2 separate regions of the Homo sapiens genome follow, and region 2 is linked to region 1. Evidence: fine-mapped expression QTL. A gene starts in region 1. The other region holds a variant in brackets. All regions are shown on one strand. Distances are between the middles of the regions. Region 1 holds the start of FLYWCH1 (FLYWCH-type zinc finger 1). Region 2 holds the start of LOC101929566 (a long non-coding RNA gene).

Region 1 (5,375 bases):
ATCCAGGTGCAGTAGGGGTCCTGAGTGATAGGAGCGGGAGGAGGGAAGGCCCTCTGTTTAAAAAGCTTCTGAATGGGCCGGTGGCACGGTGGCTCACACCTGTCATCTCAGCAGTTTGGGAGGCTCAGGTGAGAGAATTGTTTGAGCCCAGGAGTTCGAGACCAGCCTAGGCAACATAGTGAGACCTGCCCCTCGCCCCCACCATTTCTACTAAAAAAATTTTTTTTTAAAGCTCCTGGATGACTCCAGTGTCTACCCACCTCCCACCTACCCGCAACTGAACCATGAGCGTTGGAGGTGCACTTGCCTCAGACATGAACCACTATGGTGACATCACAGGCTCAGTGGGTGCACACAGACATTCCTCCTGAAGAGGTTGAAGGTGGCAGAGATGCCCAGATAATTAAAATTTACTCTAAAAATGAACTTCACAATCTCAGCACCGTTGGCATTTTGGGCCGGATGATTCTGCTGTGGGAGGCTGTCCTGTTCAGCGTGGGGTGTTCAGCAGCAACCCCGGTCTCTACCTGCCAGATCCCACTGTCATGCCCTACCACACGTTGTGACCACCAACACTGCAGAACGTTCCCTGGGGTGCAGAATTGCCCAAGAGCCACAGCTCCAAAGCAACTTAGAAATTAGAGCGCACAGAAAGGGAGAGCTTGGCCAATGAGACCCCCCCAGCCCGGTATTCCCCAGTCACCCTCCATCATAATATAAGTTTATTTACTCCTTCCCACAGCCTAATGCATCCTCAAATCTCTCTCCCTCTATGCCTGATATACCCATCTTCCCTCTCCTTCCCACTCCCACCAACTCAGGACATGATCCCTTACCACGACCTCTTTAGCCCAAGCCAAAGCCTCTGAACGATCTTGCCAGCTTTGGCAAGCAGCCACTCCAATTCTCCACATAGGGTGCTGACAGGTCACTCTTCCTAAAGCTTAACTTTCAGCATGTCTCTCCCCAATTAAATCATCTCCATCTCCAGCCTTAGTGCATCATCAGCTGGGCGTCATAAACACTCCGCAATCTAGCCCCAACCTCAGCCTTGTTCCTTCCACACGTCCCGCCAGTAGCACTTGGGAAAGGAACAAGAGAAACATGATATAATCACACGAGAAAATCTAGATCAAGCCCTGGAAATCATATTGGCCCTTGGAAAGCAGAAATATGCAAATAAAAATAAGCCATTTCGTTGGAATTGGAGTTTGCACATGATTATCTGACTATGGGAGTTCAGCTTCCAGTACAAGGAATAAAGGAACAACAGGCAGGGTTTAGAGCGAGGGTTTCAACTACGTCAGACCCGTTATGTGCAGGCTCCATGGGTTAGCAGCAGCCTTTTGGAACGGGGTGGAAGAGAATGGAACGGAATTTAATCCGAACAGATCCAGCTGCGTCATGTGAGCTTAAACAAGCGTCTCCCTTTAAACTTGTGCTTCAGTCATCCAGACCCACAGGCACAGAGTACACGCGTAAAAGGCATTTCTCAGTGTCGGCTGTGGGTCAACAAAGTTCGAAAGCCGTCACCGGAGATCTATAGGGTCAGAAGCGGGAGCGGGGTGCGTCCCGACCCGCAAAAGTGCAAGGTCACTGGGACCGCCCGAGCTGCAACCGTGGGACGGGGCTGATGCTGCGGGTCCAGGAAGGCAGCGCTGGGCGGGGCAGACACCGCCAGGAAACGGCGGACGAGTGCGGGGATCCTTGATGTGGGGGTGTCGGGCTTAGGCCAGGGGACGGGGGGGTGGGGATGGAGGGGCGAGGAGCAAGGAGGGAATCGCGGGAGACCCCACAGGAGGCGGCCTGAGCGCCGGGACGCAGACCCCTCCCCAGCACCCGCAACCCTCGGGACCCCCGGGAGAGCCGGGCTGCGGGCGCGTCCACGCCGGGGACGCGGGACATTCCCCGCCCGCAGGGGCCTGTCCTCACCGACGGCAGCGGGGCCCTCCCTCTCCCGCGACAGCGCCGCGGCGGATCCTTCAGCCTCTGCCGCTGCAGCAGCGAGCGTCGACCCCGCGACCCAGGCCGCCGCCGCCACCCCGACCCGGGCACCAGCTCCCAGCCCCGACCTGCCCCTCGGGAGCGAGCCCCGTGACCGCGCGCGCGACCCCGCCGGGGAGCCGGCCTTGCGGAACGCTCAGGCGCGCTACTTCAGAGCATGCGCAGCAAGACCGCGCGGCCCGTTCCTTAGGTAAACCGCTGCTCCGGGTCTTCCCTGCGCGGCGCCGAGCCGCAGGCCTGGCCTGTCAGCGCATGGGGGCGGGGACGTAACTCACGGAAAAGGCGGGGCCATCCCGAGATTGGACGGCGGCGTCCAGGGGCGGAGCTAGGATGGGGGAGCTGAACAGGACGCTCTTGGCGTAAAGGGGCTGGGGTAGGGGGCGCTTAATTGAGACCCCAGGACGGTCCCCAGTATCTGAGGCTGCCCGCAGGAAACGGAGCGTTTGCTGAGATGCACTCTTGGGCCTGTCAGTTTCCTGACCCCGTGGGAAGGCGATTCTCATGCATCTCATTGACGCCCCCAGTGACCCTACCCCAGAGCGGAACCAGTGTGAGATTCAAATAAACAGCGATAGCAACGGATTATAACCTTGACTACGATATGAGTCCAAACTGAAGGAAATAAGTCAACGGGGGAGAAGGGACAGTTGTTTCTTACATCAGAAAGCCAACAACGACAAAAAAATACCTGGGCCGGGCGCGGTGGCTCACGCCTGTAATCCCAGCACTTTGGGAGGCCGAGGCGGGTGGATCACCTGAGGTCAGGAGTTCGAGAACAGCGTGGCCAACATGGTGAAACCCCGTTTCTACTAAAAATACGAACATTAGTCGGGCGTGGTACTGGGCGCCTGTAATCCCAGCTACTCGGGAGGCTGAGGCAGGAGAATAACTTGAACCCGGGAGGCGGAGGTTGCAGTGAGCCGAGACGGCGCCACTGCACTCCAGCCTGGGCGACAGAGTGAGACTGTGTCTAAAAAAAAAAAAGCAGAAATATTACATAGTATTACAAAGTCTGCATGACGTGTGATGTAACACATTGAATGTAGAAGCAGGTATGAGAGCCAGTAGTCTTCTTTTAAGCCCGCAACAAAGATATTTGCAAAAATGTATAACTATGTCACTCGTCTCACTAAATTTCTTTGGGAAAATATTGTACTTTTTCATAAAACTATGTTAACACAATCAGCTTACTATTTTTTGGTAAGATCTTTATTGAAATATAATTCACATACCATGCATTTCTCCCATTTAAAGTGTACAATTAAATGATATGTAGTATAGTCAGAGAGTTGTGCAAACAGCACCATAGTCAGTTTTAAAACCTTTCATCACTCCAAGAAGAAACCTTTAGCCACCACCCTCCAATTTGCTAATCACCCCAGCCCTAAGTAATATGATCTATTTTCTGTCTTTATAGATTTGCGTATTCTGCATATTTCATATAAATGAAATCATGCAACAAATATGTGGTCTCTTGTGACTGACTTCTTTCGCCTAGCCTTAGCATAGCACTTTCAAAGTTCATCCATGTTGGCCGGGTACAGTGACTCTTGCTTGTAATCCCAGCACTTTGGGAGGCTGAGACAGGAGCATCGTTTGAGCCCAGGAGTTTGAGATCAGCCTAGGCAACATAGTGAGACTCTTTCTCTACAGAAAAAAAGAAAAGAGGAACAAGAGAAAATTAGCTGGATGTGGTGATGCGCTGTAGTCCCAGCTACTCAGGAGGCTGAGGTGGAAGGATCACTTGAGCTTGGGAGCTGGAGGCTGCAGTGAGCTGCGCTCATGCCACTGCACTCCAGGCTGGGCGACAGAGCAAGACCCTGTTCAAAAATAAAATAGTAGCAGAACTTAATTACTTTTTTTTTTTCTTGAGATGGAGTCTTGCTCTGTCGCCCAGGCTGGAGTGCAGTGGCACGACCTCAGCTCACTGCAACCTCCATCTCCCGGGTTCAAGTGATTCTCCTGCCTCAGCCTCCTGAGCAGCTGGGATTGGGATTATTACAGACAGTTGCCACCACGCCCGGCTTTTTTTTTTTTTTTTTCTTTTTTGAGACGGAGTCTCGCTCTGTCGCCCAGGCTGGAGTGCAGTGGCGCCATCTCGGCTCACTGCAAGCTCCGCCTTTCGGGTTCACGCCATTCTCCTGCCTCAGCCTCCCGAGTAGCTGGGACTACAGGCGCCTGCCACTGCGCCCAGCTAATTTTTTGTATTTTTAGTAGAGACGGGGTTTCACCGTGGTCTCGATCTCCTGACCTTGTGATCCGCCCGCCTCGGCCTCCCAAAGTGCTGAGATTACGGGCGTGAGCCACCACGCCCAGCCCCTCCAGCTTTTTTTGAGAGGAGTCTGACTGCGATGCCCAGGCTGGAGTGCAATGGCGCTATCTTGGCTCACTGCAACCTTTGCTTTCCGGTTCAAGAGATTGTCCGCCTCAGCTTCCCCAATAGCTAGGACTACATGCGTGCGCCACCATGCCCGGCTGATTTTTGTATTTTTAGGAGAGACGGGGTTTCACCACGTTGTCCAGGCTGATTTCAAACTCCTGACCTCAGGTGATCTGCCCGACTTGGCCTCCCAAAGTGCTGGGATTACAGGCATGAGCCACCATGCCCGGCCAGGATGCTGTTTTTGTTTCTTCGTTTGTTTTGTTTAGTTTTTGAGACAGAATCTCCCTCAGTCGTCCAGGTTGGAGTGCAGTGGTGAGATCACAGTTCACTGCAGCTTCCATCAAACTCTTGGGTTCCATTGATCCTCTTGCCTCAGCCTCCCAAGTACCTGGCACTACAGGTGCACACCACCGCACCCGGCTAATTTTTTTTTTTTTTTTTTTTTTTTTGTGGAGACGGGGTTTCCCTATCCTGCCCAGGCTGGTCTTACATTCCTAGGCTCAAGTTATTCACCCGCCGCAGCCTCCCAAAGTGCTAACCACCACGCCCTACCTTTGGCACCCTTGTTGACAACCAATTGATCATAAATGTGGTTTGTTTCTGGATTCTTGATTCTATTCCATTGATGTATCTATTACTTATTTATTTATTTAGAAACGGAGTCTTGCTCTTCTTGCCCAGGCTAGAGTGCAATGGTGCGATCTTGGCTCACTGCCATCTCTACCTCCCGGGCTCAAGTGATTCTCCTGCCCCAGGGTCCCAAGTAGCTGGGATTACAGGCACCCACCACCACGTCCGGCTAAATTTTTGTATTTTTAGTAGAGACAGGGTTTCACCATGTTGGCGAGGCTGGTCTCGAACTCCTGACCTCAGGTGATCTGCCCTCTTGACCTCCCAAAGTGCTAGGATTACAGGCATGAACCACTGCGTCCTGCCTGTTATTCCTTTTCAATATTCTTTTGCCTACTCTGGGTCTTTTGAGTTTCCA
Region 2 (5,375 bases), 45 kb after region 1:
CTCCCAAAGTGCTGGGATTGCAGGCGTGAGCCACCGCGCAGGCGTCTACCTTTGTTTTTAATATAATGTATTTAATTGTAGGCTCATAAAATTTATTTTTTAACAATGACGTCAAAAAATGTATTTAACATCCAGCTTGCAAAACGTCTGAAAACTTAACCATGCGCTCATGCGCACTGTCTTCAAATGCGGTTTTTGACGGTGCCCATTTTACTTCGTCATGTTTGGGGCTTTTAGTGGTCGGGACACGCAAAGCCAGGAAGAGAAACGAGGCCAACGGGAGGAGCAAAGCCGGGCTCCAGTCCCTCACGCGGCCACCGGGGGGCGACAGACACAGGCCAATGAGCAGCTGGGGATCTGAGGCCCCCGGGCTCGGCCGCTGGGTCTCTTCTCCGCCCACAAGGAGGACTGAGACGCTTTTCCTGATATTTTGGGCGTGGCCCGTCACCGGCACCGTGGCAGGGGTCTGGGGCGCTGAGGGGCCGCTCCCCACCCGGACTTAGGTCCCTGGTATTGAAAACCAGCGCTGTCCATCCGCAGTGCCCCAAGTGTCCCCGGACACCAAGCTGGCTCACTCTGGCGGCCGCCATAACCCCTGCCCGGCAGCCTCTGCGGCCGGAAGTTGGCTCGGCCGGTGTTCGGGGCATCCCTCGGGCAGTTAACCGCACTTCCGCTGGCTGGGTATCCGCGGCAAGTTCAGATCATTAGTTGGCTGGAGTTAATTAACCACCAGACAATTAGCTTATCTTTTTCCCGATCCTAAGACCAGCTGGATTGGTGAGGAGGAACTAGAGACAACAGCTTCCTTCTGAGTCACCTTGAGGCAGCAGCCACTGGGGAAATGCAGGGAAGGACACTACCCAGGCTTCCTGGAGGGGTTGGCCCCAGGGCATGCCCTGCTTGGGCGGAAAAGCTTGGAGTTTAGATGAGGAAGCCTGAATTCTCCTCTAGACCTCCTGCCAACTCTTTGCCTGACCTTGGGCAAAACATTTAACTCTCTTCTGGGCCTTGGTTTCTTTAGCAAACACTGACGCCTGCTTCTCCGGCTCGCCCCCGCGCCCCACTCCCCCCACCGCTTTTTAAATGTTTATTATTTTTTTAATCATGGTTTTATTAGGTTGGTGCAAAAGTAACTGCGGTTTTTATCATTACTTTCAATGGCATAATAGAATGGGACTCTATTTGCTGCCAGATTGGGAATTCTAAGGGTATAAATATGTATTAATAAATATTATGACCTTTAAAATTTTAAAACAAATGCAAAACCTGCAGCATTTTTCGGGAATTGATTCTCTGTACATAAAAATGAGATTAGTCAATCCTTTTGGTGTCTGTTTAGCATACAATGAGTACATCCAGATAGTTAAGACCCTTGGAATCAAGATTAAGAGAACCATCAATTAAGGAGGTATGGTTGGTTAATTCTATACTTATTTTGAAAATAAGTTAGTTGGCCGGGCGCGGTGGCTCACGCCTGTAATCCCAGCACTTTGGGAGGCCAAGGTGGGTGGATCATGAGGTCAGGAGATCGAGACCATCCTGGCTAACACAGTGAAACCCCGTCTTTACTAAAAATACAAAAAATTAGCCGGGCGTGGTGGCGGGCGCTGTAGTCCCAGCTACTCAGGAGGCTGAGGCAGGAGAATGGCGTGAACCTGGGAGGCGGAGCCTGCAGTGAGCGGAGATCGCGCCACTGCACTCCAACCTGGGCGACAGAGCGAGACACTGTCTCAGAAAAATAATAATAATAATAATAAGTATAGTTAATTCTATACTTACTTTGGAAAACACCAGCTATTCAGCACGAATAGCAAAGACACCATGACTACGTTCTACTACTGTGGGACTGTAGTAGAACACTGACGCCTGCTTCTCCGGTACCCCCCCCGCCCCCCCTCCCCCGCCTTTTTAATGTTTTATTATTATTATTTTTTGAGAGTCTCACTCTGACGCCCAGGCTGGAGTGCAGTGGGGCGATCTCAGCTCACTGCTTTCCCCTTTCTTGTTGGCAGGCAGTGCGCACCTCTCCAGGGAAATTTACTCCAGTGCTTCATCCTACCTCATTGGACACAGCCGACCGTGTTGGTCCTGGTTCCCTCTTCAAATGCTGGCTCCTGGAAATAGCATCAAAGCAAGCAGCTGATAAGACAAAACTGGGTTGTTGCTTATGCTAAGGGGAAGCACCACCTTGAAAGAGTCATTGTAGAGTGGAGGTCGGGAGGGCAAAGTTGAGATACTGAGGTTTTGGGGTTTGGTTTAAGGCAGGTCCTTTGATGTCGGACTTAATCAGGGCTGGGTAAGGATCATGTTATAATAGTTTAGGATTGTTGGTCACAGTTTTGTATTGGTGGTCACAGTGAAGTGAGGGCTTCAAAGACTCTTGGAGCTTTCTTTGATGCTCCCTGTTGAAGAGCTGTGTGGTTTTATTAATGGATTTTCCTGAACTCAAGGAGTAAGGTTATTTGCAACTTTTGTGTTTCTGGGCAAGCATTTCCTGGAATAATAAAGTCACAATAATAGAGTCATGTTATTTTGCTTCAGCAATTGTGAGTCGGAGTACTCTGCTATTTGTATCCAGAGGCACCCTGTTATGGTTTCCTTGTGTGTAAAATGGGGATTATACTGCAGAGAGAAGGGGAGGAGCTGGGCATGCTTTGAGAAGACCAAAGTTTCAACGTATTGTAGGCTTTTGGTATTACAGCAATGTAGGGCTTACAAAAATGTCTGAGTCCTGGAAAATTATCCTTACTCTGAAATAGGAAATGGAGTTGCCAAGTTGAATTACATAGTTGTTTGTTAAATGTCTCCTAGACATAATTATGTCCACTGGTCCAGTGCAACTCAGAGCACACGGTTGTGGGTCCATTGCATTTATTCTGCAGAGGGAGGTGCATGCTCATGTGTTCGAAGCCATGTGATGGGGGCTTCAAAGCTGAGAATGCTCCAGGCTTATCAAGGTCTTAAAATGGCCCTGTGACTGGCCTTTCTACTTCCTTTCT[G/A]CTTGAGTCCTGGCCTTTCTACTTCCTAGCCATGTGAATTGGGATCAACTCCTCCCTCTCTGAGCCAATTTCCTCATGTGTACAGTGGGGAAGACAATGCTTGGGGCAGAATAAGAAGGGTGAAGCGAGGTGGTGTGTTGAGTATAGTAGCAAACAGTTTTTGGAACTGAGGCCCAGATGATCCCGGGGTGGCTTCAGCCCTGCAAACTGTGGATCTGGTACAATGTACCCTGAGAGAGACCATGGACCTATAGATAGCAAGTCTGTAAAGGCTCACAGTTAATCAGGTTAGGAGAAAGCAAGAGAAATGAGGATCCCAGCCCAGGGAGCCTGGGACTTATTCAGGTCAGTTTCTGCACTGACCCACATATTTAACAACCAGCTCTTTACAGGCATGAGACAATCAGAACAGTCTTGCTGGAGATGCTGGAGGCCCTGTGTGAAAACAGGCATTCACTCTTTAAGTGTTAGATTTTGAGGATAGTGGAGGGCCTGGAGCAGCTGGGCAGTAAGGGGCACCTGGGGACTTGGGGAAATGGCTGTTTATCAACCTACAGTTGACATTCAGTTTGGCTCTACCAGAGCTGAAAATCTGCCTTGCTTAGGGGAGCATGGGAGTACCAGGTGTGGGAGCAAGTGGACGTTGGTAGTACAGCCCTGGGCAGGGCAGGCATGGATGGGGGCCAGATTCTGATCAGTGAAGCACCCCTGGGCACTCCCTTGAACCTCAAGCCTGAGGTCAACCAGTGGGGCCTTGGCTCCCTGGGGCTCCTGGATGTTTGAGCAATGCCCCCCTCAGAGAACTTTCCTAAGTTTTCAGTTTCTCCCCTCTTTTGTGCTTTGGAAAATCCTTCCTCCTTCCTGTGTCTAGGTGTCTAGGTGAGGTATTTCCTGTCTTCTCTGTCCTCAAGCCACTGTTCTCCTCTTTTACAGCAGACCTTGACACCAAATCATTAAAAACCAAAAAACTAGTTCTCTTTTCTTCAAGGGCAAGAAAGACTGAGTTTCCAAGTCCTACCAGGATATTTGCGGAAATTTTTGGATCCTATTTTTCTATGGTAAAGATAGGGAAGAAAAACAAATCACATACAAGTTTTATCTCTTTTATTTAGTTTTTTTAGACGGGGTCTCACTCTGTGGCCCAGGCTGGAGTGCAGTGGCACGATCATAGCTCACTGCAACCGTGGACTCCTGGGCTCAAGCAATCCTCTTGCCTCAATCTCCCAAGTGGCTGGAACTACAGGTGTGCACCACTACACCAAGCTGATTTTTAAAAATTTTTATGTAGAGACAGGGTCTTGCTATGTTGCCCAGGCTGGTCTTAAACTCCTGGCCTCAAGCGATCCTCCTGTCTTGGCTTCCCAAAGTGTTGAGATTATGGGCGTGAGCTATTATGCCTAGGCACTACATAACTTTTCAAGAGTGTAGTTTGATAATATATGTCATCAAAAACTGTAAATACATTTAAAACCTTTATCCTAGCAATTTCCCTTCTAGGAATGTAGCTTGAGGAAATAACCAGAGATTCTTTCAAAGATTGATGAACAAGGTTACTTACTGACACATTACATACAACAGAAAAAAGAATGAATGTCCAGTATCAGAGGGCATGGGATTGAGTAAATTATGGTATATTGTTGTCTTAGTCTGTTTTGTGTTGCTCAGGTACAGAATACCTGAGACTGGGTAATTTATAATAAACAGAAATTCATTGGCACATGGTTCTGGAGACTGGGAAGTCCAAGATTGAGGGGCTGCATCTGATGAGGGCCTTCTTGCTGCCTCATAACATGGCGGGAGGCATCACGTGGCAAGAGAGCATATACATAAGAGAGTAAGGGGGTGGAACTCATACATTTTATCAGGAACCCACCCCATGATAACCAACCCACTCCCAAAATAATGGCATTAATCCATACAGGAGGGCATAAGCTTTATGACCTAATCACCTCGGAAAGGTCCCGCCTCTCAACATTCTTGCTTTGGGGATTAAGTTTCCAACACATGAACTTTGGGGACACATCCAAACCGTAACAATTCTATAGTGGAATATTATATAGACATTAATAATCATGTTATGAATGGTTTACTGATATGAGAAGATGCCATATTGAATTTTAAAAGCAGATTAAGATAATGTCACAGTATGATTCCAATAATATCCAAAAAAAAGAATATAATTTGTAGCTTGTTTTATTAAGTAAAAATTTATAAATGGTGTTTCACTTAATTCATCAATTGATTCAACAATATTGGGAGGCCACTAACTGACAGGCACTGAAGATATAATACTAAGCTGTTAAAAGTGTAATGTTCGGCCAGGCGCGGTGGCTCACGCCTGTAATCCCAGCACTTTGGGAGGCTGAGGCCAGTGGA

What was found. PIP is the estimated chance that this variant, and not a neighbour inherited with it, causes the effect.
Region 2: its variant is the best candidate, but not a certain one, in a credible set for the expression of FLYWCH1 in whole blood (INTERVAL, PIP 0.60).

What each region holds. Positions count from the first base shown.
Region 1 is chr16:2,908,712-2,914,086 of GRCh38, reverse strand. FLYWCH1 (FLYWCH-type zinc finger 1) reads right to left here and starts at 2,156. Exons shown (of 10, transcript NM_001308068.2): 1 at 1,933-2,156. RefSeq lists silencers at 1,523-1,712, 1,686-1,785, 1,816-1,965, 1,986-2,295, 2,346-2,405.
Region 2 is chr16:2,863,494-2,868,868 of GRCh38, reverse strand. It overlaps LOC101929566 (a long non-coding RNA gene), which reads left to right and starts at 665. Exons shown (of 3, transcript NR_188573.1): 1 at 665-777; 2 at 1,340-1,408; 3 at 2,013-2,521. RefSeq lists enhancers at 382-451, 462-641, 742-861. The variant G/A (reference allele first, on the strand shown) is at 3,000.